Regions from separate parts of the Homo sapiens genome. Here region 2 is linked to region 1. A link means that fine-mapping ties the variant in region 1 to the expression of a gene that starts in the linked region. Tissue or cell type: whole blood. Region 1 holds a variant in brackets; the other region holds the start of a gene. All regions are shown on one strand. Distances are between the middles of the regions.

Region 1 (16,281 bases):
TTCCAGCAAGGTGTGGCTTCTGGTGAGAAGTCTCTTCCTGGCTTGCAGGTGGCCACCTTCTCAATGTGTTCCCACATGTCCTGTCCTTGGTGCATGCGGTGGGGGGAGAGAGATTGATCTCTCTCTCTTTTCTTATAAGGCCACCAGTTCTATCTGATTAGGACCTCACCTCACCCTTATGACCTCATTTCATATTAATTACCTTCCAAAAGCCCTATCTCCAAATAAGCCACATGGGGGTTTGGGCTTCACCATCTAAATTTGGGGAGGTGACACAAACGTGCAGTCCGCAGCAGAGGGAATGAGATGTAGCAGCTGCATAGGTGCCTGACGGCTGTGACACAGTTCTTTTGTCAGCCTCTCAGTTCTGGGTACATTATGGCCATACCCTCCAGAGGCCTTAGCCCTGGTGACATGCCTTCTGCCGCACACCTCCAGACCAACAGCTTTCAAAATTAGATTTGGATTCCAATATTTTGTTGAAATGATTAGAATCAGCCTGAATGTACTGTCCTGGGGTGCTGTTGAGGTTCTGTGGGGAAAGGAACGGGGCTCCTGATGGACTTCGTGTTGCTTGCCTCCAGGTTCTTCTTTGCGGTCCAGTTGGTCCAAAGCTACATGAGCTTCTTGATGACAATGTCTTTGTTCCACCAGAGTCATTGCAGGAAGTGGATGAGTTCCACCTCATTTTAGAGTATCAAGCAGGTAAGGAAATGAGTAAGTAATGGTGGCAAGACCAGTCAAGGGGCTGTGTATTGTCAGATTGGGGTGTGACTGTGCCGGAAATTTATCTTTGTAAATTAGCAGGATCCTGTTTTTGCCATACTGAAAGTTTCCTGACCTATTGGTTCTACTGAGCTGATACTGGCCGTTGTCTCAAGGGAGACTGAGTATTATAACATGGAAGAAAATTCCCAGGTCTACAAGCAGAATTGCTCCGAACCCAAGATAAATCAGGTCATAGGAAAGCAAGCATCTCAAATAAAAGTGAAAACGTGTTAAACACACATATATAAAGTTTTCCTTTATGACTAAGACAAGAGAAAGGCAGGTAGCATCCATTCAACTCTGTGCTGGATTCTGCCCTAGGCCTTTCTGACTGACTCTTCCAAGCTGCTTGGGGTTGATTCCAAGCTTCTGGCAAGTTTCTCTGGAGCATTTTATTTTTCCTTGGGTGTGTGAATGGAAGTGTTTTGTATTTAACATCACTATATTGTTTCCCATCAGATGTTCTAATGTTAATAAATCCACATCCACTGCATCCCATCCCCTCTTCCCAGCAGATTTTATATGTTACGTAGATTAGGCATCTGGTTTCTGAGAGAATATTAAATACTTGGACATACTTTGATCCTGTGTATTTCCTGCTGTAATTTTCCCTCTGCTCAGAACTCAGACTCTTGAGTTTCTGATTCAACACATTGTTAATACACATTAAAGACTCAAGCATCTAAACAGACTAATTGGTACCTTAAAGCAGCACTTAATACTCTTCAGTGAACTACTTCCAAGTCAATTAAGAGAATCTTCTCTACTAGAGTAATTAACTTTAACATAAGATATGAACTATGTTATTTCTTGAGAATTATGCCTTTCTCCAGGTAGAAAAAAGAGTTGTAACATGTTCTGGTTCTCTTTCGGGTGCTTACTAGAATCAGTTGGGAATTAAAGAAGGATAGGGTCTGAAAATTAGGGACACAGCGTTGACGTAGGCAATTCATACTTAATGCTACACAAGTTTTTGAGTTTCTCAGCTTTAGTTTTCCCAAATGGGAAGTAAGAGTAATAGTTTTTACTGCCTGATCATTGTGGTAAGGATTAAGAGATTGGTTGGTGTGCGGAAACATTGTGAGCAGCTTGGATGAAAAGATGACCTGGCCGCACGTGGTGGCTCATGCCTGTAATCCCAGAACTTTGTGAGGCTGAAGCGGGTGGATCACAAGGTCAGGAGTTCAAGACCAGCCTGGCCAAGATGGTGAAACCCCGTCTCTACTAAAAATACAAAAATTAGCCAGGTGTGGAGGCGGGCGCCTATAATCCCAGCTACTCAGTAGGCTGAGGCAGAGAATTGCTTGAGCCTGGGAGGCGGAGGTTGCAGTGAACTGAGATTGCACCACTGCACTCCAGTCTGGGCAACAGAGCGAGACTCCGTCTCAAAAAATAATAATAATAAATAAATAAAAGAATGACCTGACTGTGGACTGGAAGGGTCTGGAATTGCTAAAGATGAGCCCCTGAGGTATTGCTGCCATGAGTTCCAGATTCGTGTCAGTTTTTTTGGCACCCACAGCAGGAACTGGGGACCTTTGTGATTCCTGGTTTGTCATTTTTCCTGGTGACTACAGAGTGGAGAGTCTTACGTCTTCAGCAAGACTTTGATGTTGTATTGGACAGCTGTGCCTCGTATGTAGTTAAGGAGACAGCACAGTTCACCGCACAAAGAGAGTGTCTCCATCCTTGGGTTTATAAGCTTCACACTTCAGTTTTTCTTTCCTATGCCTCTTCTGCATACAAAGCAGTGGACTTCCATTAAACTTTGTGAGGTGACATTTTCCTAGGTCCAAGGAGGGAGCCTAGTCTAGTGGCAGTAGCCCTGGGCTCAGCTCTCTCAACAGAAATCCATTCCCAGCTTGTCTCTGACCTCAATAGGGAAATTCCAAGGGATTTGTCCATTTTTTTTTCCACATTCTCTCTTACCAGATCTCCCCAGAGAAGCCCATTGTCAGGCTTGGGCTGGGAATCCAGTGAGTCACTACGCAGAGGTTTTGCTGACTTACTGGCTGAGGGCAGGATGATACATTGAGAAGAGATTGCTTACAGGAATGAATACAACACTTTGTGAGGAAAGAGGGGCGCTAACTACCATTACAGGCAGAATTAGATCCATTTGCATCTGCCCCCTGCATGGCCTCTCCAACGGGGCCATGAATATGCTGGAGGTGTTTGTGTCTAGCCTGGAGGAGTTTCAGCCAGACCTGGTGGTCCTTTCTGGATTGCACATGATGGAGGGACAAAGCAAGGAGCTCCAGAGGAAGAGACTCTTGGAGGTAATGGCACTGTTACAGAATTTCACAGATCTCAGCTGGTGGTTTTCTTCAGGTTCCAGCCTCTCTTGGCATCTGCTGCCTTGTTTCCTGTGGAAACAGCAAGCAGCTCTGCACGGTTCTTCTCATCCTTGCCTTGCAGAAGAGCCTGTTTATTTTTGCCTCTGTCACTTCCTGAAGAAATCAGTGTATTTTCAATACAGTGTGGCTCCTTTCTCCTAGGTTCAGTTAGGTCGTGTTTCCTAGCAGTGTCACTATTCAAGGGTTGAGTCCACGTCTTGCTCTCTGGAGAATGTCAATGTAATGTATTTTTCCCATCGTACAGAGTCTTTGTTGATTTGCAAAATGTTGGATTTGGGGTTCATACCCATATTTTTTGTTGTCATGGGCATTTAGGTCATCAGTCTGTTCTCTTATTTGCTTGTTCTTTTGTTAATTCATTCCCATGGCTATATGCCAGACACAGCATGATGCAGAAGGAATACGACAGAGGATGACACAGGCCCTGCCCTCAGCTCACAGTTTACTGCCAGAGATAGACACTTGGAAAAAGTAATTGCAGGCCGGGCATGGTGGCTCACGCCTGTAATCCCAGCACTTTGGGAGGCTAAGGCAGGCAGATCACCTGAGGTCAGGAGTTTAAGACCAGCCTGGCCAACATGGTGAAACTCCGTCTCTACTGAAAATACAAAAATTAGCCAGGCGTGGTGGCGGGTACCTGTAATCCCAGCTACTCGGGAGGCTGAGGCAGGAGAATCGCTTGAACCTGGGAGGCAGAGGTTGCAGTGAGCTGAGGTCGCGCCATTGCGCTCCAACCTGGGCAACAGAGTGAAACTCCATCTCAGAAGAAAAAAAAAAAAAAAAAAGGAAAAAAGAAAAAGGAATTGCAAAATCATGTGCCTCAGTCCTGTATTAGGGTACAGTGGTGGCCCCAGAAAGGAGGTAATCAAGTCTGCTTAGGGGTGGTAGGATTAGGAAAGGCTTCATGTTTAGGGAGGAACTAGCACTTGAACTTGGGTCTTTAAACAGTCATTCCTCTAAAGCAACTCACATAGAAGCAACTGGAGCAGCTAGATAGTCTGATCCTTTGGATCAGGTGCCCAGAAACCACTGATGGGCAGCAGGGAAGAGGAGATGCAGTGAGCTTGGCTGTTGGGAAGAAATTCAGCCTGCTTAAGTTCCAACTGAATGAAAGATGCTCAGGGCAATGCTGTGAGGAAGAATGTGCTTTAAACAATGACAGCCTATACTGTCTGCAGGGCGTGCGTGCTGCACACTGTATGCTGGTATTTGGAAGTCATGCTGCCATTCTGTACTGTCTCTCCTGTGTTTGAGAGCTCAAGTAGGGCTCTCCTGGGACTCAGGGGGAGCTAATTACCTTGAAAAAGGCATATAGCACCCATACTATGTTTCTGTTTCTTGGCTGGGTTTGGGTTTAGGTTTTTGGTTTGTTTCTTGCAGTGCCATGCTGACCTTAGGCCATTGTTGCTGGGGTCTCCTCAGCCAGAAACCAGCCTGCTTGGAGCCAAGGCTCCTGTGAGGTGCCTGAAAGTGCCCCCACAGCTAGGAGACCTAAAGCCTCTTCCTTTTCTTCCCATTGTGTTGACTGGGTTTTTCCAGG[G/A]GAGGAGTGGGGCCAGTTAAAAGCTCCCCATGCCAACCGATTCATCTTCTCTCACGACCTCTCCAACGGGGCCATGAATATGCTGGAGGTGTTTGTGTCTAGCCTGGAGGAGTTTCAGCCAGACCTGGTGGTCCTCTCTGGATTGCACATGATGGAGGGACAAAGCAAGGAGCTCCAGAGGAAGAGACTCTTGGAGGTAATGGCACTGTTACAGAATTTCACAGATCTCAGCTGGTGGTTTTCTTCAGGTTCCAGCCTCTCTTGGCATCTGCTGCCTTGTCTTAGGTCCTGGCCTCCCAGGGACATATCTTGGCAGCTGGCTGTGGAGCTTGCCTCCTGCTGCAGTGAGGCACCTCACTGTATCCCTTCAGATGTGGGCAGCAGCTTGAGTAGGACAGGGCAGAACATCTTCTTGCCTGAGCCTCTGCATCCTGTGCTAAACCGACCATGGCTGCAAGCTGCAGGGTTTGTAGTTTGTGTCCTTTGTGTTATTTGTATCATCTCACTTCACATCAGCTATGCTGCAACTCCTACAGATTCGTACAGCAGTCGAAGTGAACTGCCATCTCTGATTCTGTATCCCTGATGGCTCTGCACAGCCTAGTCTTCCCTGGTGGGAAGAGTGTCCCTTGTCCACAGAGGTGGTGGGGACCCACATTGCTTGTAGCTCCCGTGAGCATGCAAAGAAGGCCATTACCAGGAGGAACCGCCTCTCAGGATCTGATCTTTTCTTCCCTCTTTCTTGACTTCCTTCTATTTCTAATGGCAGTGCTTATCTTCTTCTCTTTGCAGGTTGTAACCTCCATTTCTGACATCCCCACTGGTATTCCAGTTCACCTAGAGCTGGCCAGTATGACTAACAGGGAGCTCATGAGCAGCATTGTCCATCAGGTAACCTCATGGGACCATCGTTTGGCCCTGATCCTCATAGAGCCTTGCAGAGAAGCTTTTTTGTGCAGTGGGACCATCTGTTTGGGCTCAGGGACTGGCTCACTGACATGTAGGTTTGTGTCACTCAGACCCAAGTCCATGGAGATCCAAATAAGGATCCAGGACTGTTCTGAAACAGCAGTATCTCCTACTAGGTTAAAGTTATGGCAGTGTAACTGACAGATTGTTGATCATATTTCTCCTCTGGAATGGAAAAGTTGAAAGTGAATGGAAAAAACTGAAAGCCCAGCTCAGCTGCTTTCAGTTGAACTTCAAGAAGCTCAAAGCAAAGAAACTTTGAGGGAACCTCCCTCCTTCCTCAGGCATCTGGGTGTTCAGTGCCTGCCTCTGGGCAGCAGCATTGACTAGTATAAATCTGAGCAGGTGAAGCTTCAGAACACAAGCTCTGGAGACCTGGGTTCGCATGCCAGCCTTGCACTCACGGGCTTCATGAACTCAGGCAAGTTACCTCACCTGGCAATCTAGTGTTACCTAATTTTAATTGGTAATATATTCATTTGGTTAAAAAATACCCAAAAACTATGAAAAGATATACAATGAAGTCTCCCTTCTACTTCCTCCCCTTCCCTACTTGCACCCTTCATCAGTTTATTTCCAGAGTTCTTTTGTACAAGTATAAGAAAATACAGAAATATATCCTGATTTTGTTTTCCATCCCTTTTTACCCAAAAAGATAGCATAGCCTACTGAATACTCTGTTCTTCACTTTGCTCTTTTTTTCACTAAATATATCTTGGAGATCTTCCTGCATCACTAACATGGAGAGTATCCTCTGTCTTTTCATAGCCATATGGTTAAAATGAATGTGTAGATGTACCTCCGTTTACTTAACCTGAACCTTCTGGATGGACATATTGGTTATTTACTGCCCTTTGCTGTTACACACAGTGCTGCAGTGAACAACTTGATACATGATTTTGTTTTGCCTGTGAACAAGTCCATATTTAGGAGAAAGTCTCAGAAGTAGAACAGCTGGACTGGAGCATAAAAAAGCACTTGTAATTTTGAGATTGCCAGATTGCCCTCCATAAGAATTATACCAGTTTACTTCCCACTGGCAATAATTACAAATACTTGTTCCCTCATATCCTTGCTACCAGAATGTTAAAATTTGCATTTATATCAGTCTGACAGATGAAAAAATGGTATTTCAGTATACAGTCATCCCTCGTCATCAGCGGTGTGTGGGGCGGCGGGGGCGGTTCCAGAACCCTTCCCAGATACTAGAATCTGCAGATGGTTAAGTCCTGCAGTTGGCCCTGTGGAATCTGTGGATTAGACAAGTTGGCCCTCCCTATCTGCAGGTTCCACATCCTTGAATACTCTGTTTTCCATCTGAAGTTGGTTGAAGCCATGGATATGGAGGGCTGACTGTCGTTGGTTTTGTTTTTTTTTTTTTTGATAGACTTCATTTTTTTTTTATGGTAATATTAGGTGCATAGCAAAATAGAGCAGAATCCAAGAGAGTTCCCATATACTTCCAGTCCCCTCACACACAAGCCTCCCCAACTACCAGCAGCCTGCACCAGAGTGGTACATTTGTTAAGCTAGTGAGCCTACACAGGCACGTCATCAGCACCCAAAGTCCATAGTTTACACTTGGGTTCACTCTTGGTGTTTTTCAGTATAGCTTTTGTTTGGGTTTTTCTTCTCACCTTTAAAAAAATGAGCCATTTCTATTTCATTTTCTCTGTAACTGTCTACTTAACCCTTCTGAGGCTTAGTCTGTACAATGGAGGCAGTCCCTCCTTCCCTCAGAAGATTACAGTAAGAATTGGATGAAATAAAGCCTTTAGCTCAGTGCCTGACACAGAAGAACATGCAGTGAAGGAAAGCTGCTATTGCTCCAACAAAGATGTAGGCCATTAAATTTTTAAAACCATTTTATACATGCACACATACATACAAGGACTCCTCTCTCCTGCAAAAATTGTTACCTTAAGTGTGGTTCTCTGGTTCTAAGGAGGGAAGTGCTAAGTAAGAAAGACAGGGAGGTGGATATTGTGGTTCCCCATCAGACAGAAAACACGGGCACCTGTTTGGTAATCTTTTTCTTACAGTGTTATTGCTAAATTCAGACAGTCTTCCTAACCCACACCTGCTTTTAAAAAGCTTAGCTCTAACATGAAACTGTATGCTTTTTGCTTCTTGGTGTTTTGTATAAAAAAAATCATTATAACCCTGACAGTATGTTGCTTGAGGTCTCCATTTTACTGGTCTAATACTGCTGACATTCAGGAACTGAGAGCCATGCCCCATCAGTGGTAAGAGTATCTCCTATGTGTGCAGTGGCAAAAGCTAGGGACCATGGAAAGAAACACAAAATATAGACACCTCTGCCTTTTGTCTTACAGTGGCATATCACAAAAGACTGCATCTGAAACAATGTTACTGCAGCTTTCCAGTTTCTCCCAAATGATGATGAAGGTGAAGATAGGGGTGTGATAGCTAAAACAGTGACTTCAGGGCCAGGGAGTCCTGTATCAAGGAAGAAAGCTGCCTGCCTGTGTTCCCTGTCATTTAGTCACTGGCTGTGTCATAAGACATCTTAGGAGCCAGGTTATCTCCATCAGAAAGATACCTGTTGTTGTTTTTGTTAGCAGGTCTTTCCCGCGGTGACTTCCCTTGGGCTGAATGAACAGGAGCTGTTATTTCTCACCCAGTCAGCCTCTGGACCTCACTCTTCTCTCTCTTCCTGGAACGGTGTTCCTGATGTGGGCATGGTCAGTGACATCCTCTTCTGGATCTTGAAAGAACATGGGAGGAGTAAAAGCAGAGCCTCGGATCTCACCAGGATCCATTTCCACACGCTGGTCTACCACATCCTGGCAACTGTGGATGGACACTGGGCCAACCAGCTGGCAGCCGTGGCTGCAGGAGCTCGTGTGGCTGGGACACAGGCCTGCGCCACAGAAACCATAGACACCAGCCGAGTGTCTCTGAGGGCACCCCAAGAGTTCATGACTTCCCATTCGGAGGCAGGCTCCAGGATTGTATTAAACCCAAACAAGCCAGTAGTAGAATGGCACAGAGAGGGAATATCCTTCCACTTCACACCAGTATTGGTGTGTAAAGACCCCATTCGAACTGTAGGCCTTGGAGATGCCATTTCAGCCGAAGGACTCTTCTATTCGGAAGTACACCCTCACTATTAGGAAGATTCTTAGGGGTAATTTTTCTGAGGAAGGAGAACTAGCCAACTTAAGAATTACAGGAAGAAAGTGGTTTGGAAGACAGCCAAAGAAATAAAAGCAGATTAAACTGTATCAGGTACATTCCAGCCTGTTGGCAACTCCATAAAAACATTTCAGATTTTAATCCGAATTTAGCTAATGAGACTGGATTTTTGTTTTTTATGTTGTGTGTCACAGAGCTAAAAACTCAGTTCCCAAATCCCCAGTTTATGCAGCGCCATCAGGTATTTTAAGCTAAACTTCTTCACCCCTGAGAGCATGTCAGCTGGAGAAAAGCAGTTCTTCCTTGCCCACTTGAGAAGTGCACGCCCACTCACCCAACATCCTGGTCTCTAGGAAAGCCTCATGTGAGGTTCCTCTTTCTTTCAGCTCAGTGCCCATGGGCAAGGATCATGATTTCCATTCCGTGTTACAATGACAATATTTAATGAGCATAACCTTCTCAGTCTCCTGCTCTCAAATTTAGGACAGAGCCGCTAAGGACAAAACAATCCCTCCCGTGCTTTATGATGGCAGCAGGGGCTGGGGAGCCTCTGAGGGACTCTTTCATTCTGCAGTTGTCTGGAAGCCTGGGTGGCGTCATGAGCTGAAGGATCATGCTTTCCTGTCCTGGCTCCATAGGTTATAGGCTGGCTGGTGAAAGGTTCACGTGGCCCAGGCTGAACTTCATTGCCTAGCTTTGGATGTGCTTTCTGCCATAAAGACTGATTTTTGTTCGTTCTGAGCCTTCAAGGAATTTGTTTTTTACAACTGGAATATGCTCCTGTGTGTGTTAACAGATCATGGATGTTTTATGTTTTCACTGATCATTTAAAGAGTTTGACCTCAGAGCTCCAGGATCATCAGTAAATTTGTCATGTTATATATTTATTTTTTTATAAATCAAGACTTCTGTGTGCTCTTAAATATATTAAAAACAATTTACATTTCAGGAATTCTGTCTGTAATTGATTTTTGTCTCCATCACCACTCTGGAACCAGATAAGATAAAAATCATTCTGATCTTCATTTGTGATGTGCATGTTACTTTGCTCTTGAGGTGCTTGCAGTCCCTCATGCTGAGCCTGAGCTATAGGCTTGTCCTGTGGGGTTGAAAGTGACACAAAGTACTAGTATGAAGTAGCCCAGTTAAAGCTGAATTGGAGCATAGCAGTTTGAGAGCATGGTGAGCCTTTTCAGCTTGTTGGGAGGGCAGTATGAACATGGCAGCTGGTGGTGGGCCTGCCTAGTTCAGGGGTCTTCATTTCCCCTGGGCCCACAGCAGCTTCTGGAATCTCAAAGCTACCTCAAGCTCTTCATTTATGACCTCCCTTTCCCTGCTTTGGATAAGAAAGCTTGATTACTCCTTCAAAGTAAATTTAAGCCTAGAATGCAGCTTGTAACTCAAAGCTGCATTCTAGGCTTAAATTAAGGAAATCTCTGGCTGCTACCTCTTCCTTCTGTTTCCCAGATAAGTTAAAAATAACCACCAACCTTCTAGCCTATTTTTATTAGAAAGGCTCACATGAAATTTTTGTTTTCTCAAGAATTGAAATATTTATATTCTAAACCTAAGAAGACTTTATTAGGAGTCCTGAAGTGTTCACATGATCTTTTCTAATGTCTAAGTTGACTAAGCCCCTGGTCCTGAGTGTGTATTCTTAACTCGTTCTCCATTTTTTGATTGGTGATGCCAGTAAAGACTAGTTCAGGGAGTATAGACTACACATACCCTAGAGCAGTGTTTTTCAAATAATGGATCTTGAACTAATAGCTACTAAATCCATTTGGTGGTTATCACAAAAAGTATAAAAACATCATACATTATAAGGGTAAGTATAAGTAAGCATTGTTTTATAAAATGTCATTGACTGTCTAAGTGTATATAGATTTAAACATACATACATCGCCCTGCAGAATGTCCATCTTTTTTGTGAAGCAGCTAAGCAATAGAAGTGATGGGTATTTATCACACAAGACAGATTATGCAGAGGTGAGTTGGAAGGGTAGGATAAGCTGAACAGGTGGGGGCTTCAGGTTTCTCAACCCTTTGGTGTTTTACAAAGGTATTTTACATATGATTTTATATGAAGAAATCTTTGAAAATCCATTGGCCTAAAAAGGATGCCTGGTGAAGGGTGAGTCTTCCTGAAAAGTGTTGGTACACTCCCTCTGGCTTTCATTTGAAACTGATTTTAGTTTCAGGGAAAAGAAAAGCTGCAGCATACAAAGCACTACCAAGAAGTAAGAGTACAGCCAAAAATCCGTCATCTTATGCAGGTACAGTTTGCATTGTATTCTCTCCTGGCAAGTTTGAGAAGAAATCCAAATTGTACAAAAGGTTTTGAGGTGGTGAGTATTGAATGATGTTGGACAAGTTACCCTTACTGAGCCTTACTTTGCTTATCTGTAAAATGGGGTTAATGGCGGTACCTACCTTCATAGGGCTGTTGATTACAGGAGACTGCCATGTGGAATATTTAGCACAGTATGGGGCACATACTTAAGAGCTAAATAATTGTCAGTTATAACCAAGCTGAACAGACAATTTCTTGGGTCTCTTTAGAACTATTTTAAATCACTGAAAAGCTACTTGTAATAATTTAACATTTTGTTTTCTGGTCTTTTTTTTTTTAAAGGTGAAAATGTTTATATAGTGAAACTGCACAAATTTTAAGTGTGCCATTTGGTAAATTTGTTTTTGTGTTTTTGTTTTTGAGACAGAGTCTCGCTCTGTCGCCCAGGCTGGAGTACAATGGTGTAATCCCAGCTCATTGCAACCTCCACCTCCTGGGTTCAAGTGATTCAACTGCCTCAGCCTCCGGAGTAGCTGGGATTACAGGCACCTGCCACCACGCCCAGCTAAGTTTTTTGTATTATTAATAGAGATGGGGTTTCACCAGGTTACCCAGACTGGTCTTGAACTCCTGACCTCAGGTGATCCAGCCGCCTCGGCCTCCCAAAGTGCTGGGATTACAGGCATGAGCCACCACACCTGGCCTTTTTGTTTTTGAGACAGAGTTTCGCTCTGTCACCCAGGCTGGAGTGCAGTGGCTCAGTCTCGGCTCACTGTAAATTCCACCTCCCAGGTTCAAGCGATTCTCCTGCCTCAGCCGCCCTAGTAGCTGGGATTACAGGTGCCTGCCACTAGACCTGGCTAATTTTTGTATTTTTTGTAGAGATGGGGTTTTACCATGTTGGCCAGGTAACGGTCAGGCGCGGTCTCTACTAAAAATACAAAAATTAGCTGGGTGTGGTGGTGGGTGCCTGTAATCCCAGCTACTGGGGAGGCTGAGACAAGAGAACTGCTTGAGCCCATGGGGCAGAGGTTGGAGTGAGCCAAGATCATGCACTTCTGCCTGGGCAGCACAGCCAACTCTGTCTCAAAAAAAAAAAAAAAAAAAAAAGATTCAGAATGGACAGCCCCAAGCACATTGTCTGAGTTAGTCTTGATCTGCAAGGAGCAGCAAAAATGAAAAGTCTCCATCACCCTAGATAGTTCCTTCATGCCACTTCCAAGTCATCCCCACCGCATACCTCAAGCCCCAGAACAACCAGTTATTTTCCACCAGAAATCAGTTTTGCCTGTTTTCAGAATGCAACTTAAAAATGGAGCCATTCAGTATTTAGTCCTTTGTATAGAGCTTCTTCCATTTAGCATAGTATTTTTTAGAGTAATCCATGTTGCATGTAGTTGGTTGCTTTTTATAGCTAGATAGTACTCCACTGTGAGTACAGAGCATTCCACTTTGGAATTATTATGAATAAAGCTGCTGTCAACAAGTGTTTGTGTAGACGTACTGTCATTTCTCTTGGGTAAAGGCCTATAGGAGGGAAATTGCTGGGTGAAAGGCCTTTTTTCTAAAATGGTTGGACCATTTACACTCCCTAAAACAGCATATGACAGTTGTGGTTGCTTTTCTTCCCCACAACCATCTGGAGTTGTCAATGTTTAATTTTACCCATTTTGACAGGTATACAGTGGTATTTCAGCATGGATTCAATTTGTATTTCCCTAATGACATATGAGCACTTTTTCATGTGCTTTATTGACTATTCATATATCTTTCTTTGTGAAGTGTCCAAATCTTTTGCCTTTTTCTCCCCCAGTTGAGTTGTTTGCTTTGTGTATGTTGTTTGGGTTGTTAGGTTTTTTTGAGTAATAAGAGTTGCATCCAAAATGTTTGGATACAAGTCCTTTGTCAGATATGTTTTGTACTTTCTCCAAGTCTGTGGTTTGATATCCTTTTTCTTAATGTCTTAATGTTCTCTATGCCCAAAGAAATATTGGACCATGCCCATGTCACAAATATAGTCTCACTTTGTATATAAAATGTGTAAGTTTTTATCATGTACAGCATGTTTTGAAATATGTATATATTACCTTTACATTAGCTGTAGGTATATAGCTATATTGAGCTAATTATGCATTGTCTCAGTTTTTTGTGGTGAGAACACTTGAAATCTTCTGTTGGCAATTTTCAATAACTTTTTCTTCTTTAAATTCTTTTGTATTGTATTTTTATATACTAGGAAATTTTCAATAATACATTAAGTAGAGTCACCGTGTTGTACATCTCCCCAACCCCTGCCCCTAGATTGCTTTTCCATACAGCTATCCAGTCGTTCCAGTAACATTGGTTGAAAAGACTTTTCCCATTGCATTGCTTTGGTACCTTTATCAAAAATCAAATGACTGTATAACTGTAAGGTCTATGTATGCACTCACTTCTGTTTTATTGCTCTATTTGTCTATCTTTATGCCAGTGCTACATGAGCACTATTATAGTAAGTCTTGAAGTAAGGCAGTGTAAGTCTTCCAATTTTGGTTTTTTTCCATGATTGCTTTACATGTTCTTGGTCCTTTGTGTTTCCATAACATTTTAGAGCCAGCTTGTCAAGTCAATTTCTACCCCAAAACCTGCTGGGATTATGATAGGATCTATAGATGAATTTCGGAAGAATTTTTATCTTAACAGTATTTAGTCGTACAATGCATGAACATGATATATATTTCTATAATGGCCTTCTGTTTCACACCAGTGCTTTTGCCGTTTTCAGAGTAGAGGTCTTAACGTGTAGTCTGTTAAATTCCTAAGTATTTCGTATCAATAGTATTTGACACTTTTGTGATTTTTTTTATTTTCAAAATTGTTCCTTGTATATAAAAATACAATTGATTTTTGTACATTGACTGTATCTTGTGACCCTGCCAAATCCACTTGGGTGTAGTCACTTTTATTTTAATAATTTATTTTTAGGATTCCTTAGGATCTTCCACATAATCATGTCATCTGTAAAGAGTTTTATTTCTTCCTTTCTAGTCTTTATGCCTTTTTATTTCTTGCCTTATTGCACTGGCCAGAACTCTAGTCCAGTATAAGGCTGAATAGAAGTGGTAAGAGCAAACATCTTTGCCTTGGTCCTGATCTTAGGGGCAAAGTAGTCAATATTTCACTAAATATGATATCCATTGCATTTTTTTTCTCATGGATGCCCTTCATCAGGTTGAAGATGTTCCCATCTATTCTTTATTTGCTGAGAATTTTTATGATTTTGTTTTGTTTTTACTTTCTCAGGGGCTGAGAAGGGTATTGAAGTTTTAGGTTCATAGGAAATTGAGGAAATACAGACACTTGCCATATACCAGCTGCCCCAACACATGCATAGCCTCTTCCCTCCCTATCAACATCTCCCACAAGAACATGTAAAGCAAACATCTCCCACATTTGTTACAACTGATGTATATATACGGACACATCTTTATCACCCAAAGTCCATAATTTACTTTTGGCTTCAGTCTTGTACATTCTGTGGCTTTGGACAGAGTCTCACTCTGTCACCCAGGCTGGAGCACAGTGGCACAATCTTGACTCACTGCAACTTCCACCTCCTGGGTTCAAGCCATTCTCCTGCCTCAGCCTCCTGAGTAACTGGAATTACAGGTGTGCGCCACCATGCCCGGCTAATTTTTGTATTTTTAGTAGAGACGGGGTTTTGCCAGGTTGGCCCGGCTGGTCTGAAACTCCTGACCTCAGGTGATCTGCCCACCTCAGCCTCCCAAAGTGCTGGGATTACAGGCATGAGCCACCACACCTGGCCTGGACAAATATATTAATATAACAACATGCATCCACCACTATGGTATCACACAGGGTAATTTCACTGCCCTAACAACCCTCTGTGCTCTGTTCATCCTTCCCTCCCCACTAATGCCTGGCAACCACTGATCCGTTTGCTGTCTTATAGTTTTGCCTTTTCCAGAAGGCCATATTGTTGGAATCATGTGGGATGCAGCCATTTCAAATTGGTTCCTTTCTATAGTAATACGCACTTCAGTTTCCTACATGTCTTTTCATAGCTCATTTCTTTTTAGAATTGAGTAGTAGTCTTTTATCTGGATGTACCACAGTTTATTCATTTATTCACCTATTGAAGGACATTTTGGTTGCCTCCAGGTTTTGGCAACTGTGAATAAAGCTGCTGTAAACATCCATGTGCAGGTTTTTGTGTGGACATATATTTCTAACTCCTTTGGGTAAATAGGAGTGTGATTGCTGAGTTCTAACATTAAAAGTATGTTTAGTTTTGTAAGAAGCTGCCAAACTGTCTTCCAAAGTGGTTATACTATTTTGCATTCCCAACATCGATAAATGAACAGTCCATTGCTCAATATCCTCACCAGCATCTGGTGGTGTCAGTGTTCTGGATTTGGGCATTCTAATAGGTATGTAGTGGTATCTCATTTTAATTTGCATTTCTCTGATGATATATGATGTGGAACATTTTTAAATATGTTTATTTGCCATCTGTGTATCTTTGGTGAGGTGAGGGGTTTTGGTCCATTTTCTAGTCAGGTTGGTTTTTTTGCTTTTAAGTCAGTTTCGCTGTTGCCCAGACTGATGTGCAATGGTGCAATCTCCACTCACTGCAACCTCTGCCTCCCGGGTTCCAGCAATTCTTCTGCCTCAGCCTCCCAAGTAGCTGAGATTACAGGCATCATGCCTGGCTAATTTTTGTGTTTTTAGTAGAGACGTGGTTTCACCACGTTGGCCAGGCTGGTCTCCAACTCCTGACCTCAAGAGATCCGCCCGCCTTAGCCTCCCAAAGTGCTGGGATTGCAGGCGTGAGCCATCGCGCCCGGCCTCAGGTTGTATTCTTAATGTAGAGTTTTTGAAGTTATTTGTATATTTTATGTAACAGTCCTTTATCATTTAAGAAACATGATGGGTTTTTTGTGTTTGTGTGTTTTAAGACAGGCTCTCACTCCATCATCCAGGCTGGAGTGCAGTGACATGATCACAGATCATGGCTCAGTGCAGCCTCAACCTCTCAGGCTCAAGTGAGCCTCCTGCCTCAGCCTCTCAAGTAACTAGGATCACAAGATGTGCCACTACGCCCAGCTAATTTTTCTTTTAAATTTTTTTTGTAGGGATGGGGTCTCACCATGTTGCCTGGGCTGGTTTTGAACTCCTGGCTTCAAGTGATTCTT
Region 2 (16,281 bases), 32 kb before region 1:
GAGGGTGGAGTCAGCCGAGATCACGCCATTGCACTCCAGCCTGGGCAACAGTGGGAGACTCCATATCAAAAAAAAAAAAAAAAAAGATGGGTATCAGGTAGCTTTTGTTCAATAATAAACCACTTCAAAATTCAGTGACATAAAAATAATAACCATTTATTTATTATTACTTTGTGGGTCAGTAATTTGGGCTGAGCTCAGATGGGCTGTCTTCTGGTCTCAGATGATCTTACTTTTGTGTCAGTGGTCAGCTACTAATCAGCTAGGTGACTTTGCTTCTTAGGGTTGCCTGGCTATCAGCTGGAGTGATGGGAGCAAGCGGGCCATATTTCTTTCATCATCTAGCAGGCTATCCCAGGCTTGTTGATAAGTCTTGTTGATATGTGGCAGTGCAGGGTTGCAAGAGAGAGTAGAAGCATGCAAGGCCTCCTCAGGCTTTGACTCAGAAATGGAACGATGTCACTTCTGCCATATGCTATTGGCAAGGCCAGCCCAGATTCAAGAAGTGGAGAAACAGACATCACTCCTTGATGGGAGACTGAGAGACAAGGTCACAGAGAAAAGGAGAATTATGATACTTGTAACACACCATGAGCAAGAATGAACAAAGAACAGAAAAAAAAAATTCCAGCATGTCCAGAGCAATTGTTGGGGAGTGTTATGGGCTGAACTGTATTCCCTTCAAAATTCATATATTGAAGTCCTAATCCCTAGTACCTCAAAATGTGACTGTACAGTCTTTAAAAAGGTAACTAAGTTTAAATGAGGTCAGTAGGGTGGCCACTAATCCAATATAACAGGTAAGGGAATGAAAAGACAGACAAGAAAATATTTGCAAATCACAGGTCTTATAAAGGACTCGCATCCAGAGTATTTTTTTAATTCAGTAATAAGAAAAAAACAATCTAATAAAAATGGGCAAAAGATATGAACAGATACTTGACCAATGAAGATATGAAAAGATGCTCAACATCATTAGTCATTAGGAAAATAAAAATTAAGACAAAGATATACCTACATATTTATTAGAATGGCTAAATTTAAAAGACTTACCGTACCAAGTCTTGGCAAGCAAACAGAAGAACTAGAACTCTAATAGAATGCTGGTAGGTATATAAAACGGTACAACCACTTTGGAAAACAATTTGATAGTTTGTTAAAAAGTGGAACATACATCTGTTACATGATTCAGGTATTCCATTCCTAGATATTTCCCAAGAGCAATTAAAGCCTACAAAAAGACCTGTAAACAAATGCTCATAGCAACTTTATTTGTAATAGTCAAAAACTAGAAAGAACCCAATGTCCATCAACAAATGAATAGATAAACAAATAATGGTATATCCATACAATGGAATACTATTCAGCAACAAAAAGCAATAAACTAGCACAATCTATAGAAGAAAAAATAATCAACACATTACACTTCATCAAGAAGAAAAACTTTTATTCTGTGAAAGGCTCTATTAAGAGGATGAAAAGACTGGAAGAAAATATTGCATACCATGTATCTGGCAAAGGACTTTTATCTATAATATATGATATATAGTCTCAAAATTCAATAACAAAAAACAAACAATTCAATTATAAAATGGGCAAAAGGCTTGAAGAGACAGCCAGCCACGGTAGCTCATGCCTATAATCCCAGCACTTTGGGAGGCGGAGGCAGGCGGATCACTTGAGGTCAGGAGTTCAAGACCAGACTGGCCAACATGATGAAACCCCGTCTCTACTAAAAAATACAAAAATTAGCCGGGTGTGGTGGTGCGCACAGATAGTCCCAGCTACTTGGAAGGCTGAGGCTGGAGAATCGCTTGAACCCAGGAGGCAGAGGTTGCAGTGAGCCGAGATCACACCACTGCACTCCAGCCTGGGCAACAGGGCGAGCCTCTGTCTCAAAAAAGAAAAAAAAAAACCTGAAGAGACACTTCACTGAGGAAGATATATGGATGGCAAATAAATACATGAAGAGATGCTCAACACTACTAGCCATTAGGGCAATGTAAACTAAGACCACAAACAGATGTCACTATACACCCATTAGAACAAAACCTAAATTAGTGACAATATCAAGTGCTGGTGAGGATGTGAAGAAACTGGATCTCTCATATGCTGCCTGTGGGGATGTAAAAGAAAACTAAACATAAAACCCAGCAATTGTATTCCTGGGCGTTTCTCTCAGAGATATGAAATATGTGCACCCAATACTCTGTACATGATTGTTTATTGCAGCTTTATTTGCAATTGCCCAAAACTGGCAACAACCAATTGCCCAAAACTGGCAACAACTCAGGCTTTGACTCAGAAATGGAACGATGTCACTTCTGCCATATTCTATTGGCAAGGCCAGCCCAGATTCAAGAAGTGGAGAAATAGACATCACTCCTTGATGGGAGACTGAGAGACAAGGTCACAGAGAAAAAGGAGAATTATGATATTTGTAACACACCATGAGCAAGAATGAACAAAGAACAGAAAAAAAAAATTCCAGCATGTCCAGAGCAATTGTTGGGGAGTTCTCCTTCAATGAGTGAATGACTAAGCTAACTGTGATCTTTCCATACCACAGAACATTACTCAGTCAAAAAATAAAAATAAATAACAAAAATGAACTATTGACACATGCAACAGTGTTGGATGCATCTCAAGGGTATTATGCTCTCAAAAGATCACATACTGTATGATTCCATTTATAACATTTCTCAGAATGACAAAATTACAGTGATGCAAAGCAGATTAGTGGCTGCCAGGGTCTAGGAATGGTAGAGGATGGGGGTTGGGTGTGACTAAAGGGATAGCATGAGGGAGATCTTCGTGGTGATGGGACAGTTCTTGCAACTTGATTGAGTGGTGATTACCCGAATCTCCATATATAATAAGACGGCACAAAACTATACATACACCTTGCACCAATGTCCGTTTACTGGTTTTGATGCTGCACTATGATTATGTAAGATATATCCATTGAAAGAAACTGGGTGAAGGGTACACAGACCCTACCATTTTGGCAACTTCCTGTGAATATATAACTGTTTTGAAGTTAAAAGTTTTTTAAAGAGCAATTAACAGTTGATATTCACTATAACCTAGATAAATCTCAAAAATAATTATGCTGTATGAAAAAAGCCACATCAAAAAGAGTATGTACTGTATGATCCCATTTATATAAAATTCTGCAAAGTGTAAACTGAACTGTAGGGACAGAAAGCAGATTGCCTAGGTACAGGGAGTGGGAGGATGTACAGGCAGGAAGGAGTAAGAGGGAAGGGTTACAAAGGGCCATGAGGAAGTATTTGGGGGTGATGGATATGTTTACTATATTACCTTGATTGTGGTGATGGTTTTGTCAGAGGCATTCGAACCAGAGCGACTCCACTTTGAGTGAGGGCTAGGAGAATGAGGCTGAGACTTGCTGGACTGAATTCCCAGAAAGTTAGGCATTCTTAGCCTCTAGATGTTTACGGTTAAGGGAACAAATTAATAATGTTTACTAAAACAGACCCAGACTCGGGAGTGTCCAGATATCCCAATATCTGGGGAACAAAGGCATTCCTAATTTTGCTTGAAAGATAATAATATTGATTCTTGCCAAATACGATAATTAAGAAAATTAATAGTTTATCACAAACCCTTGTAGCAGAGCACATCTCTCCATATATACAAGCATTGTACCTAGGGTGGATGCGTTCCTCCTCTTAGTTTCGGGAACGTCCCGCTCTGTCTATGGAGTAGCAGTCCTTTCACCACTTTGCTTTCTTAATAAACTTGCTTTCGCTTTGCACTACAGACTAGCCCTGAATCCTTTCTTGCATGAGATCCAAGAACCCTCTCTTGGCGTCTGGATCTGGACCCCTTTCCTGTAACAGTTTCAGGGTGTATACATATATTAAACTTATTAATTTGTATACTTTAAATATTATGCACTTAATGCATATCAATTTTACTTCAATAAGCATACTAAAAATATTAAGTGCCTAGTAATAAAACTTACTAAAGACATACAAATCCTCCACAAAAAGTCTAATATGATATTGGGAGACATTTAGGTAGATCTAAATAAATGAAGGGATCTACCATAGTCCTAGAATGATAAAAATCCTAATTGGGTTTTTTTGGGAGGGAGGGCGACAAGTTGATTCAAAAATGTATATGGGAATTTTAAAAGGCCAAAGATAGCCAAGACACTCTTGAAGAGTAAGGAGAAAGAATTTATATTAACAGATATCAAGACAGTGAGACGCTGATAAACAAATAGACCAATGGAACAGATTGAAGAGCCCCAAAACAGATCCACACATACATAGACACGTGGTATTGGACAGAGGTGGGAATGCAGAGTCATTGAGAAATGACCAGTAAAAGGCACTGGGTCAATTGGGTATCTATAAGCATTCTTCTCACAACACACAAAAATCAATTCCAAGGTAGATTAAATACCTAAACATGAAATGTGAAAGCCTACAGCTCTTAGAAGGTTGTACAGGAAAATACCATCACGATCCTGAGTATGGGAAGATTTTTTAAATAAGTAACAAAAAGCACCAATGATAAGGGGAAAGTAGTAATAAAAAAAGAACAAAACGGTAACTACACTAAAAACGAAGAACTTTAAGCCTGCGCATGGTAGCTCACAACTGTATTCCTAGCACCTTGGGAGGCCAAGGCAGGAGGATCTCTCGAGGTCAGGAATTCAAAACCATCCTGGGCAACACAGAGAGACCCTATCTCTACAAAAATACATAAATAAGAATAATTTTTCATAGAACTCTACTCACTAAAGATATTATAAAAAGAATGAATAGACAAGTGACTGGGAGGGAGGCAAGATACTTGCAAATAACCAACAAATGGAAACTTGTCAAAACCACAGTAAGATACCACTACACACCCTACAAAATGACAAAGCTTTAAGAATCTGTTGGAGTGTAGCTGGAGCAACAGAAATTCTCATATGCTGCCAGTGGGAAGATAAACTGGCATACCACTTTGGAAAGATGTCAGATATTATATAGTAAAGTTGAAGACAGGCATATCATATGACCCAGAAATGTTACTTTGTTTCTACCCTGAAGAAATGGCTATACACGTGTACCACAGCATATACATAGCAACACTGTATGTAATAGTAAAAAAACTGGGAAAACTCCAAATCGTCTATTCATAGTACAATAGATAAATTTTAGTATTTTCATTCAGTGGGATATTACATAGATGCTAAGCCGTCAAAAAATAGAAAAGGCTACTGCATAGTGACCTATGCAGAAATGGCTGTCTTCCTTATAGTAAGAGAGTGACAGACCAGCAAGAAAGACTAAAAAGAAAATTAAATATAGCTCTCAGAACCAACCATAGCAACAGCAGGGAATGTTTTGAATTCCAGCATGTAGCAGACACTGTGCTAGACTGTCTTAAGATAACTCTACCTCCCACAACCATTCTGCAAAGTAGGAATTATTTTGCATATAAGGAAACTGAAGAACAGAAAAGTTAAATGACTTACCTGAGGGCACACAGATAGCAGGTGACAGAGTGAAGATTTGCAGCCAGGAATCAAATCCCACCTTCTTTCCATTGAAGTATGAACTGTTGATTGCAGCAACCATTCACCACCCCTCCCTTCATCCAGAACCCTGATTTTGTTAAGATGTACTGCCTCTTCCGTGCTGTCCACCCTAGGGATGGCAGAGCAAAAGACAGAACAAGCATGGGCCCCTGAGGACTCTCTCTGGCAATGCTGCCAGGCCATCCCAGTTAGATGTTTTTGCTTCCTTTTATTTATTTTTCCTTTATTTTAGTTTTAGGCCCAGTGGTTGTAGAACTGCTAGGGTTCTTGAATCAAAAAGAAAATGTAGTTAGAAGGCAAACTTCCCATTTCCTTCCAAACCATTGCAAGTAATACTGAAACCCAAACCAGATCACTACAGCAGATGCTACAAGGGCTACAACAGGACTGGTTTACGCAGCCTGCAGAAGAGAACCCAAGCAGGAAGGCCTGTGAGTGTAAAGGGCTCCAGCAGGCAGCCTGGTAGCAGTGTTCCGGGAAGCCTGAGATGGCTAAGAGCACTGTGAGGGTGGAGGCCTCTGCTTTATCCTGCCCCGATTCATTCGCCCTATGAAGCTCATAGGTCCCTGCCAGACAGAAGCCCACACAGTCCTGTGCCTCCTGCCTTTCTAGGCTCAGCGCTTCTTCCTGGTCCAAAGCAGTTAATTTCCAAAGTGAAAATTCCGGGCCACTATGTTGTCACATCCCCTCAAGCTACAACCCGGTTCCCAGTCTGTGTAGGAAGTTCTATTACTATCAAGAAACTCTCATGTTCTTCTTACTGCTTTGCTGCTGACGTTCCTCTCATCTGGCTCCTGTGCCTCAACACCCCTGCCTCTCCCCTGCACTGGCCAGAGGCAGTCCATCCTCTGAGCACTTCTAGTCCCCTCCTGACCTCACATTAGTGAGGAGGATGTCTGATTGCCAAGGGCTATGGCTACAGACACAAAGCTTTCTCTTTTCGGGGGCTGGGATCCTTTATTCCATCTCTTCAATCTCTTTGGAGTTTTCTGTAATCTTCAAAATTGTGCTCTGACTCTGGCCTTTGGGCATGGCCTGTGGTGGGCTGTGTCCCTGGCATCAACAAAGGCTTTGACACAGTGTGGCCTTCAAAGAGCAGCTTGGATGAAACCCCAGAGGCCTGGAGCTGCAAGGAAAGTGGGTTAGCCCAGCTTTCACAGGGACCATTTGGTCCCACTTTAGTTTCTGCTCCACGTGGGAACAAATGTGCCCCTTAAGGCCTTTCAGATTGCGGGGGTGACGCTGATGGGTATTTATGTTAAAGCCAAAACCTTCAGCTAATTTGGAAGCTGACAGGATTCTGCTAATTCTTTGTGTTCATACAGGATCTGCTCCCTGGCCTTCCAGGTCAGGATCTTGGGTGGGGCACCTGGAGCCTCCATTTGCCTCTGAATTTTCTAGAACCAAATTGCTTTTCTTCTCTCATTTCAAGGTCCTAGGAGAGAGAACCAATAGGAAAGGCCATGTCTGGAAGCAATTTGGGTGGGGGCGGGGGGTGTCTTGAGGCCTGCCCAGCCCAGCCCTTTCCTCTTTGTTCAGCCTAGGCAAAGGAGCCACAGCTGCCCACTCAGAGCTGTTTTAATTGTCCCCAGAAACCTAACTTCTAGAAAAACAATTGGCTTGCAAAGGATTCCAGACTCTCTGAACAGATAGATGATCAGAATCTTTTCTGATTTTCGTTAAGGAAATATTTCAAGAGGGACTGTGGCACCAAGACAGTGAATGCCTGCCCCTGAGCCCCGATGAGAAGGAATTAAGGGCCCTGTGACTCTGTATGTGACCAGAAGCCACATCAGGCTCCGCCAGGCCTGGCAACTGTCCCTGGTGTTCTGTTCTTCACCTCCTGCGGCTCCTGACTCTTCAGTTCTCAGTTGGAATTGAGGTCAGCTCTCTCGTTTCCTTGTCTGGCCCCCTTCACCACCCACAATGCAAACCCACACTGAGTGACTAACCAGCAAGAGGCCCACAGCAGGTCCCATAGCAACCAGAGGGGGCCAAGCTTGCTACCACAGCCCACAACATGCCAACACCCCATTTAGACTTTTACATGAGAAATAAACATCCACTTTGTTCAACTGCTGTTGTTTTGTCTCTGTGACTAAATCAACAATTCTGGCAAATCTAGAAAGAAGCAGAAGAATTAGGTGCAAAGTGCTGGAAGTTTAGCAGCCTCTCGTGGGAGCAAGAAAGCCCCAGGCAGGTTTCTGTCCACATCACTTTAATGTGGAGCACTCTCCTAGTCCTCTAGATCTGTCTGTTCTATCACCTTCCCACAGTTCAGCTTCCTGTGCTCCCCAAAACTTCACCTTGGAAACATATTTAACTGGTTCTGACCTTTAGCCTTGTGTGACTTTGTGGGTCCACAGCCAATATCAAATAACTACAGACAACAGAAACTTGGTTAAAATTCTCAATAGAGGGAAATGATCGCTGGACAGTCAGCAGACTCGCTGTTTTCAGGTCAGCTGCTGGCTCAGTCCCCTCTGGGTGCCAGGGAAACCTGACAGCTGAGGGTTGTGAGAAGAAGCAGTTTCTCTAGGAACTGACTGACATGTCTCCCTAAGGAGAGAGAAGTGACAGGCAACTCTAGGGAAGATGGCTTTCATGGCTTCATAAAGATCTGACTGGCTCTTTGGCTTCTTTTCCAAGGTAGCCCAAATCTGTTCCTGTGTGAATATCTTTGTCGAAAGGGATGGCATGGTCAGGTAGGCTGGGTAGGATGAACTGCGGGAAGGTAGATGACCAGGATGGGGAAGTTCTGATGAGGTGGGGCTGAGGAGAATGAAGACTAATGCCCAAGATCAAAGTTAGGGAAATAAAGTTTCGCTGCCAAGTCCAAAGGTCAGGGTCACAGTGGAAAACTGGACACAAAGCCAAGGTCAGGAGCCGAGAGAATTGGAAAAGTGGAAACAAACCAGGGAACAAGACTAGGCCGGGCATTGTGGCTGATGAGAATGAGCTGGTACCCAGCCTAGCTTCACTGTCTCTCAACCTAGCCTCATGCACAGAAAAGTATCAGCGAAGAGAGGGCTGGGTTTAAGTGATGTCACCAAGGGGGAACAAAAGAAAGCAGCGTTTCTCAACCCAGGTCCATAACTCTCGTGTTGTGCACAAGATTGTGTACATTTTCCAGAGTTTGTTAAAGGGAACAGCGCCCCCAAAAGGGTTAAAGTTTGATTGTGGAATAATCTGGTTATCCAGAAGAGAACGATCTCTGCGGGCTCTCCTGTCTCGACGAAGTCCTTTAGTGGCTGAGGGTCTCGGCCACCTTCCAAAGGGGCGGAATCCCCCTGCCTCGCGTACCCCAGGGGTCTCGGCAGCGCCGCTATTCTGTGAGCCTATTCCTCTCAGAAGCGCCGAGCACTAGGCCTGGAAGAGGACAAGTCTAGCAAATGAGGGGACACGGGCGGAGGGAGGGATTAAAAGATGGGGGTGTGATCCGTGCCAATGGGGACACCCACTGGTTCGAATATTAACGCGAGGTTTGTCCGCTTCTTCACAATCTGTCCGTTTCGTTTTACTGCGAAAGCAAATGTGTTCCCATCCCTCTATTTGGGGATACGATTAGAGTTCCGGGAAGGGGGTGCAGCGCCCGGACTGGCACAACCGCCGTTGTCCCACCTCCTCCGGGGCGGCAACACCGCAGTGCCAGGCCTGGGACTGAGGCGTGGGGTCCCCCCTCGCTCCGTCCTGGCGCCGCCCGTCGCCCCGCCCCTTGGGGGGCCCCGTGGCGCACCCTTGTGACGTAGCGCTTGTGTCGACATCGGCGCGCGCCGAGCCCGGAAGAGGCGCGGGCTAGGAAAGGAGTTGGTTCGCGCAGGTGCGGCGCCTGGGTCCCCATGGCGCTGTGGCGCGGCTCCGCGTACGCGGGCTTCCTGGCGCTGGCCGTGGGCTGCGTCTTCCTGCTGGAGCCAGAGCTGCCAGGCTCGGCGCTGCGCTCTCTCTGGAGCTCGCTGTGTCTGGGGCCCGCGCCTGCGCCCCCGGGACCCGTCTCCCCCGAGGGCCGGTTGGCGGCAGCCTGGGACGCGCTTATCGTGCGGCCAGTCCGGCGCTGGCGCCGCGTGGCAGTGGGGTGAGTGCCAACGGGGCCTGGGTCTCTGAGCCTCCGAGGTCGGCCTTGGAGGTCGGGCGGAGCCGCGCAGAAACAGGGCTTCTCAGAGGTCCCCGGGAGGCGCTGCTGTCCGCGCTGGCCCCTTGGCGAGAAGTGTCGGACGTCTGAGTGGAACCCGGTTCGTCACCGCTGCTCTTTCCACTCGGCTGGCCTCTGCGCCTTTCTCTCATCCCGGTAGGACCAGCCCTAACAGCTTCTTGCTAATCCCGCTTTGTCTGACACCTTTCTCCGAGCCTTCTTCCTCGTTCCAACTTTTAGCCCCTTCTCTTCTGGCGACTGTTGTTTTGCAATCAAAGATACTTGACCTTACCCACTATGACAACACTCTTCCTCTTTCTTCTGAACTTCTTGAAGACGCGTGATGTCTGCCTTTACCCACTTTCGAAACGCCGTGTAGTCTAGAAACCACACGACTGTACTGCAACTCCTCTCAGATTTGCCTTTTTGAATCTTCATTATCTACTCTGCAGCCTTCCACGCATTGAACACGCCCTTCTCCGTGAAATTCTTTTCTTCCCCTGACTTCAGTGACACTGCATATTTAAGGTTCTTCCAAATGACACTACCTCCTTTCTTTGTACTTTTCCTTGGGAATGTAATTATTTTCTTTATAGTATTGATACTGTAAACACTAACTTTAGTCCCTGTCTCAGTTCGATTTGACTTTCTTGCCGTAATCTCAGAGTTATGTATAACCACCACATAAAAGCAGGCCCTCTACCATGTAGCTCACTACTTTCTGTGGAGTGTTGGGGCCGGGAGGGGTAAAGTAGAGCAAACTTGGCCTGAAGATTAAATGACATCATTCATGTAATCTCTCTAGCATAGTGCCTGCTTTAAAAAGCATTCGATATTAGCTATAATTTTGGGGTTTTTTTTTTTTTTTTTTTTTGGACACAGGGTCTCTCTCTCTGTCGCCTAGGCTGGAGTGCAGTGGTGCAATCACTGCTCACTGCAGCCTCGAACTCCCGAGCTCAAGAGATCCTTCTGCCTCAGCCTCTGGAGTAGCTGGGACGACAGGCAAGCACCACCACGCCCAGCCAATTTTTTATTTATTTTATTTTTTTTAGTAGAGTCGAGGTCTTGCTATATTGCCCAGGCTGGTCTCGAACTCCTGAGCTCAAGCCAGCCTCCCATCTTGGCCTCCCAAAGTGCTGGGATTAAATTGTCCTTCCTTGCTTTATGCGCGTTCATTCAGCAGATATTCACCAACTACATGGTTAGTGTCAGGTCTGTGCTAGGTTCTTAAGATACAGAGATGGGTGAAGCAAGGCCCCTGTCTCACTTGTTGGAAACATATTATTGTATCAGTCATTTGGGCTGCTAGAACAGAATACCACAAATTAGGTGGATTAAACAACAAATCTGTTTTCTCGTGGATCTGGAGGCTGATAGTCCAAGATCAAGGTGTTGGCAGGATTGGCTTCCGATGTGGCCTCTCTTCCTAGCTTGCAGCCAGCTGGCTTTTCAGTTAGTCTGCGCATGTACACTCCTGGTGCCTCTTATTCTTCTTATGTGGACACTAGGTCCTTTTGGAATAGGGCTCACCCGTATGACCTTATTTAACCTTAACTACTTCCTTAAAGGCCCTACGTCCAAATATAGTCACATTGGGAATTAGGGTTTCAGCATATGAATTGGTGGGGGGTGGACAATTCAATCCATAACAATTATGGTTAGAAGAGGAACAACCCACGAGGACCAGGCAGAAGCCTTAATGCCTTTTACGACCTTACCTTAGAAGCACATAGGAACTCTTCTACCAGAGTCACAGGTCCACCTGGTTTTAAGGGAGGGGACATAGAACAAACCTTGATGGGAGGAGCATCAGTGTCACATTGTGAAAAGAACATTTGGAATGGGGCATCTTATTGCCACCATCTTGGAAAATATATTTTACTACAGTGACTTTCATAGGACAGACACTAAATAAATGAGATTTCTTCAAGCCAAAGTGGGAACAGGTCCACCTAGGCAAGAGAACCAAATGTGAAAAAGTACATGGTTTGTTTGGGAACAGGTCGGCCTTGTTTTGGAGCGAGAATCCTATGGTAGAGGGTTGTAAAGAGATGATGCTGAGAACGAAGGGTTGGACCAGATTGTGAAGGGCCTTTTATGGGGAAGCCATAAAGGTTTGTAAGTAGTTAACTGATGACAAGTTCTTTGTTGAGAATTGGTGGGAATGTGAAGGGTGGATTTTGAGCAGTGGTTCTAAACTGTTTCACTGCTTCTCATCATTTATTACCCAAAGAGGATTTTTAGCCCAAAGATAGGGGGATATAGGAGGGATGAGGGGGAGCAGGTGTAGTACTTGTATCAGAATCTCATTTTGAGGTTGTAGTTTGACTTCTCTAGAGACACACTCGTATTCACACTCTCTGTCACACAGACACACTCAAAATGCCATTTAATGTGATTCATAAGGAGGAATATCTTGACATCCTGACACTGGTTTAAGAGGCCATTGTAGGGTTTGTGTAAAGGGAGAAAGGAGCCCGAACCAAACTCGGCAATGATGTAGAAGAGGTGAGATTTGAGAGATAACCTGAATAATAGTTTGGATGTGGTGGAGTAAAGAAAGGCAGTCAAAAACGACAGGTTTTTAATATTGGATATCTTGTTTAGTTTTTGTTTTCTGTTTGAGACAGCATCTCACTCTGTCACCCAGGCTGGCGTGTGCAGTGGCATGTTCAAGCTCACTGTGGCCTTGACCTGTCATGCTCAGTGTCCCGAGTAGCTGGAACTACAGGCATGTACCACCACACCCGGCTAATTTTTATATTCTTGGTAGGGACAGGATTTGCCAAGTTGCTCAGGCTGGTCTTCAACTACTGGGATCAGGCCTTGGCCTCCCATCTTGGCCTCTGAAAGTGCTGGAATTACAGCTGTGATTCCACACCCAGCCCAGTATTAAATATCTTATAACAACTAATATGGTTAGGCTTTGTGTCCCCACTCAAATCTCATCTTGAATTGTAATCCCCATAAGCTAATCAAGGGAGAGACCAGGTGGAGGTAATTGAATCATGGGGGCGGTTCCCCCATTCTGTTCTCCTGATAGTGAGTTCGTTCTCATGAGATCCTTTGGTTTTATAAGGGGCTCTTCCCTGCTATTCACTCGGCACGGCTCCTTCCTGACACCTTAAGAAGAAGGTGCCTTGCTTCCCCTTCACCTTCCACCATGAATGTAAGTTTCCTGAGGCCTTCCCAGCCATGCTGAACTGTAAGTCAATTAAACCTCTTTCCTTTATAAATTACCCAGTCCCGGGCAATTCATTATAGCATTATGAAAATTGACTAATGCAACAACTTTATGAGGGAGGCAGATAACAGATATTGTCACCGAGTCTTCTCACATTGATTTATTTGCCCAAGATCTTGTAGCTATCAAGTGCCAGAGGAGCAATTGAAGCCTGGTCTTTCCCATTTCTGGTTCCTTGTTGATGCCATGTTGTTGCCATTAAGAGAGATTTAAGAAAAACAAGTTTCAGAAGATAAATTGGATTTCAGAGGAGGAGAAATGTACATACATTGTTATGGGATTTCAGATGAAGCTTCTCTGTCAGCTACTGAAAATGAGAAGCTGGTTTTTAGGAATATATTGAGAAACAGGATTGCAAATTTTGGAGACACTGGCACTTAGGTTGAAGCCAGAGACTGGATAGGATCACCCAGGAAGAGAAGAGGAGAAGGTAAAAATGGTAAAGGTGGAATTCTGGGAGGCACTAGCCCTTAAATGCTAGTGCATTAAGGGGCTGGTGAAAAGGGGTCAAAGAAGTAAAGGATAGGAGGAGTTTTAAGGCGTTTCTAGGAAACTTCCCCTGCTTCTAAATCAGACTCTGGTACCTATTCATTGGTTTAAAAATGATGAAACCCGGCAGGCATGGTGGCTCACGCCTGTAATCCCAGCACTTTGGGAGGCTGAGGTGGGTGGATCACCTGAGGTCAGGAGTTCGAGACCAGCTTGACCAACATGGAGAAACCCCATCTCTACTAAAAATAAAAAAATTAGGCGTGGTGATGCATTTCTGTAATCCCAGCTTCTCAGGAGGCTGAGGCAGGAGAATCGCTTCAACCCAGGAGGCAGAGGTTGCGGTGAGCCGAGATCGCGCCGTTGCATTCCAGCCTGGGCAACAAGAGTGAGACTCTATCTCAAAAAAAAAAAAAAAAAAAAACCCTCATGCTAATATTTATTGCCCCTGGAACTGGCTTCACCCTGAACCTTGAAACATATCTTGGTCTTCTCCCCTGTATGAATTCTCCATTCTAGCTAGATAATTCTTTATTGTATCCAAACACAAGGTTAATCCCTTCATGTACAACTTTGCTTGTGTATACTTCCTACGTGGGTTTCAGTATCATCAGATAAATCTGGGTTTGAATTTCAGCTCTGCCTGTCTGTGGGCTTTGGAATGTTAGTTAATCCATGGCCTCACTCTTCTCAGCTGAAAGCAGTGATGACTAATTAGCGATCTTACCGCATTTTGCAAATAGGTTTAATCTATCTGAAAATGCCTGCCTAGCGTGGGGTGCTTCTTAAAGATCAGCCGCCTTTCTTCTATCTAGATGCAGGAGCTAGGGTTCAGCACAGGGACCACTGCCCTAGCCATTTTTCCCCCGCCTCTTTACAGTTCTATGTCTTAACAATTACGATTAGCTCTTATAACAGCTGATGCACATAATGTAAAGCTAGAGAAAACCTTAGAAAACATTTTACAGGTGATGAAACAGAAGGGAGGAGATAGGAAACATCGTCTTTGCCTTAGAGGCACTTATGGTCTAGAAGGGAGAACTGTGCCCTCTTTGCCAGCCCCCCAACCCATTTTGACATTCAGCATCTGTTGTCTTGACCTATTTTCTAGTTGTTTCATCTGTGTTTTCTCCAAAATCACAGTCATCTAATATACATTTTTTACTGAAGTGTGAGCTTCTGCTTGCATGTCAGATGAGCATAATTTTGTCTTCTGATTCTTTAACTGTGTCTCCCTTTATTTCCCCTTGACAATACAGCCCCTTAGGTAATATGCTTTTTACATTTTGGGATGCTATTGAGTTGAGAAAGTGCAGAGAAAGATTCTTATTCTGGTTAAAGTATTATAAAACAGAACAAGAAAGTACATGTAAAGTACTTGTTTGGCATCCGGCATGTAGTAGATGTTCAGTGTTTTTTTGAGACAGGGTCTTGCTCTCTCACCCAGGCTGAAGAGCAGTGGTGCCATCTTGGTTCACTGCAACCTCTGCCTCCCAGGCTCAAGTGATCCTCCTGCCTCAGCTTCCTGAGTAGCTGGGGCTACAGGTGTGCACCACCACACCCAGGTAATTTTTGTATTTTTTGTAGAGACGGGGTCTTGCTATATTGCTCAGGCTGGTCTGGAACTCCTAGGCTCAAGTGATCCACCCGCCTTGGCCTCCCAAAGTGCTGGGGTTACAAGTGTGAGCCACCGTGCTCAGCCTGGTTTTTTTTAATTATAAAAAGTTATCAAGTAAACTGTGAACCAGTCTGAAAAACTGGTTATTTTCCCCCGGTATTCCTGGTATGATTAGGTGAGGGATGGAAAATGTTCCATGATAGTGATATTTTGTAACTCAAAATTAGTTCTGTTGGGTTTTGCCTTGTGTTACAAAATATACTGAACAGCTTTCCCCATTCTCATTTTAAGGAGTCAGACTGTTTAAAATCTCAGCAGTACTAGATATGGAGAGTGGGGTGTTTATAGTTTTGTTTTGTTTTGTTTTGTTTTTGAGATGGAGTCTTGCTCTGTTGCCCAGGCTGGAGTACCATGGCACGATCTCAGCTCACTGCAACCTCCACCTCCCGGGTTCAAGCGATTCTCCTGCCTCAGCCTCCCAAGTAGCTGGGATTACAGGTGTCCACCACCACACCCAGCTAATTTTTGTGTTTTCATTAGAGATGGAGTTTCACCATCTTGGCCAGGCTGGTCTCAAACTCCTGACCTCATGATCCACCTGCCTCGGTCTCCCAAAGTGCTGGGATTACAGGCTTGAGGGTGTTTATAGTTTTTGAAGTAGTTATTTTCAAAGACAGGTTTCCCTCCATTTCTGAACCTTTACTCTTCAGACTCGGGACCCAAATCCATTTGGATACAATTTTTTTAGACTGGGCTGTCTGGAGGAAATGGTATCCCTCCTTACTCAAGCCCTCACTGTCTGAAACTTAGGAACCTACTGGCGTCTGAGAGCTACAGATACTTGTATTCCTGTTGATTCTACCAATCTAATGTTGCATTCATTAGAAATAAAGGGCACCATGTCTGAGGTAAAATTGAGACCAGTTTGCAAGGTGTGTTTGGTTTCTTAACATTGAAGGTTGTGAAAGGAAAGATTTTAAACATATCTTTAAGCAACTGCCACGTGCATGTCCAGAATGGCCCCTTCTGTGTGTGTCATGGAGAAGTTCTGGCTTATATTTTCAGTGTTTCTTTACTAGAAATCATCCCTCTTTTAAAGAGAAGGGCCAAATACAGTAGCTAGATGTTTTATGCACTGAAAGGCATAGTAAATCTTAGGTTATGCTTCTCCAGTTGACCAGAGTCATTATGTGTGTCTTGAACAAGAAACTGAGTATTTAAATGCTATTTGATAGGCA

What was found.
Region 2: it holds the start of ADPGK, and the variant in region 1 is fine-mapped to the expression of ADPGK in whole blood (TOPMed, PIP above 0.99).

The regions. Positions count from the first base shown.
Region 1 is chr15:72,744,831-72,761,111 of GRCh38, reverse strand. It overlaps ADPGK (ADP dependent glucokinase), which reads left to right. Exons shown (of 7, transcript NM_001365225.1): 4 at 585-705; 5 at 4,665-4,861; 6 at 5,458-5,556; 7 at 8,217-9,818. The coding sequence ends at 8,771. Among named protein-coding and RNA genes, the nearest start is that of ADPGK-AS1, 30 kb to the left of the region's middle. The variant G/A (reference allele first, on the strand shown) is at 4,666.
Region 2 is chr15:72,776,813-72,793,093 of GRCh38, reverse strand. ADPGK (ADP dependent glucokinase) reads left to right here and starts at 9,336. Exons shown (of 7, transcript NM_001365225.1): 1 at 9,336-9,635. The coding sequence starts at 9,403. It overlaps ADPGK-AS1 (ADPGK antisense RNA 1), which reads right to left and starts at 10,259. Exons shown (of 3, transcript NR_040107.1): 1 at 7,898-10,259; 2 at 5,501-5,672. RefSeq lists enhancers at 8,811-9,020, 9,071-9,130, 9,891-9,960 and a silencer at 9,181-9,640.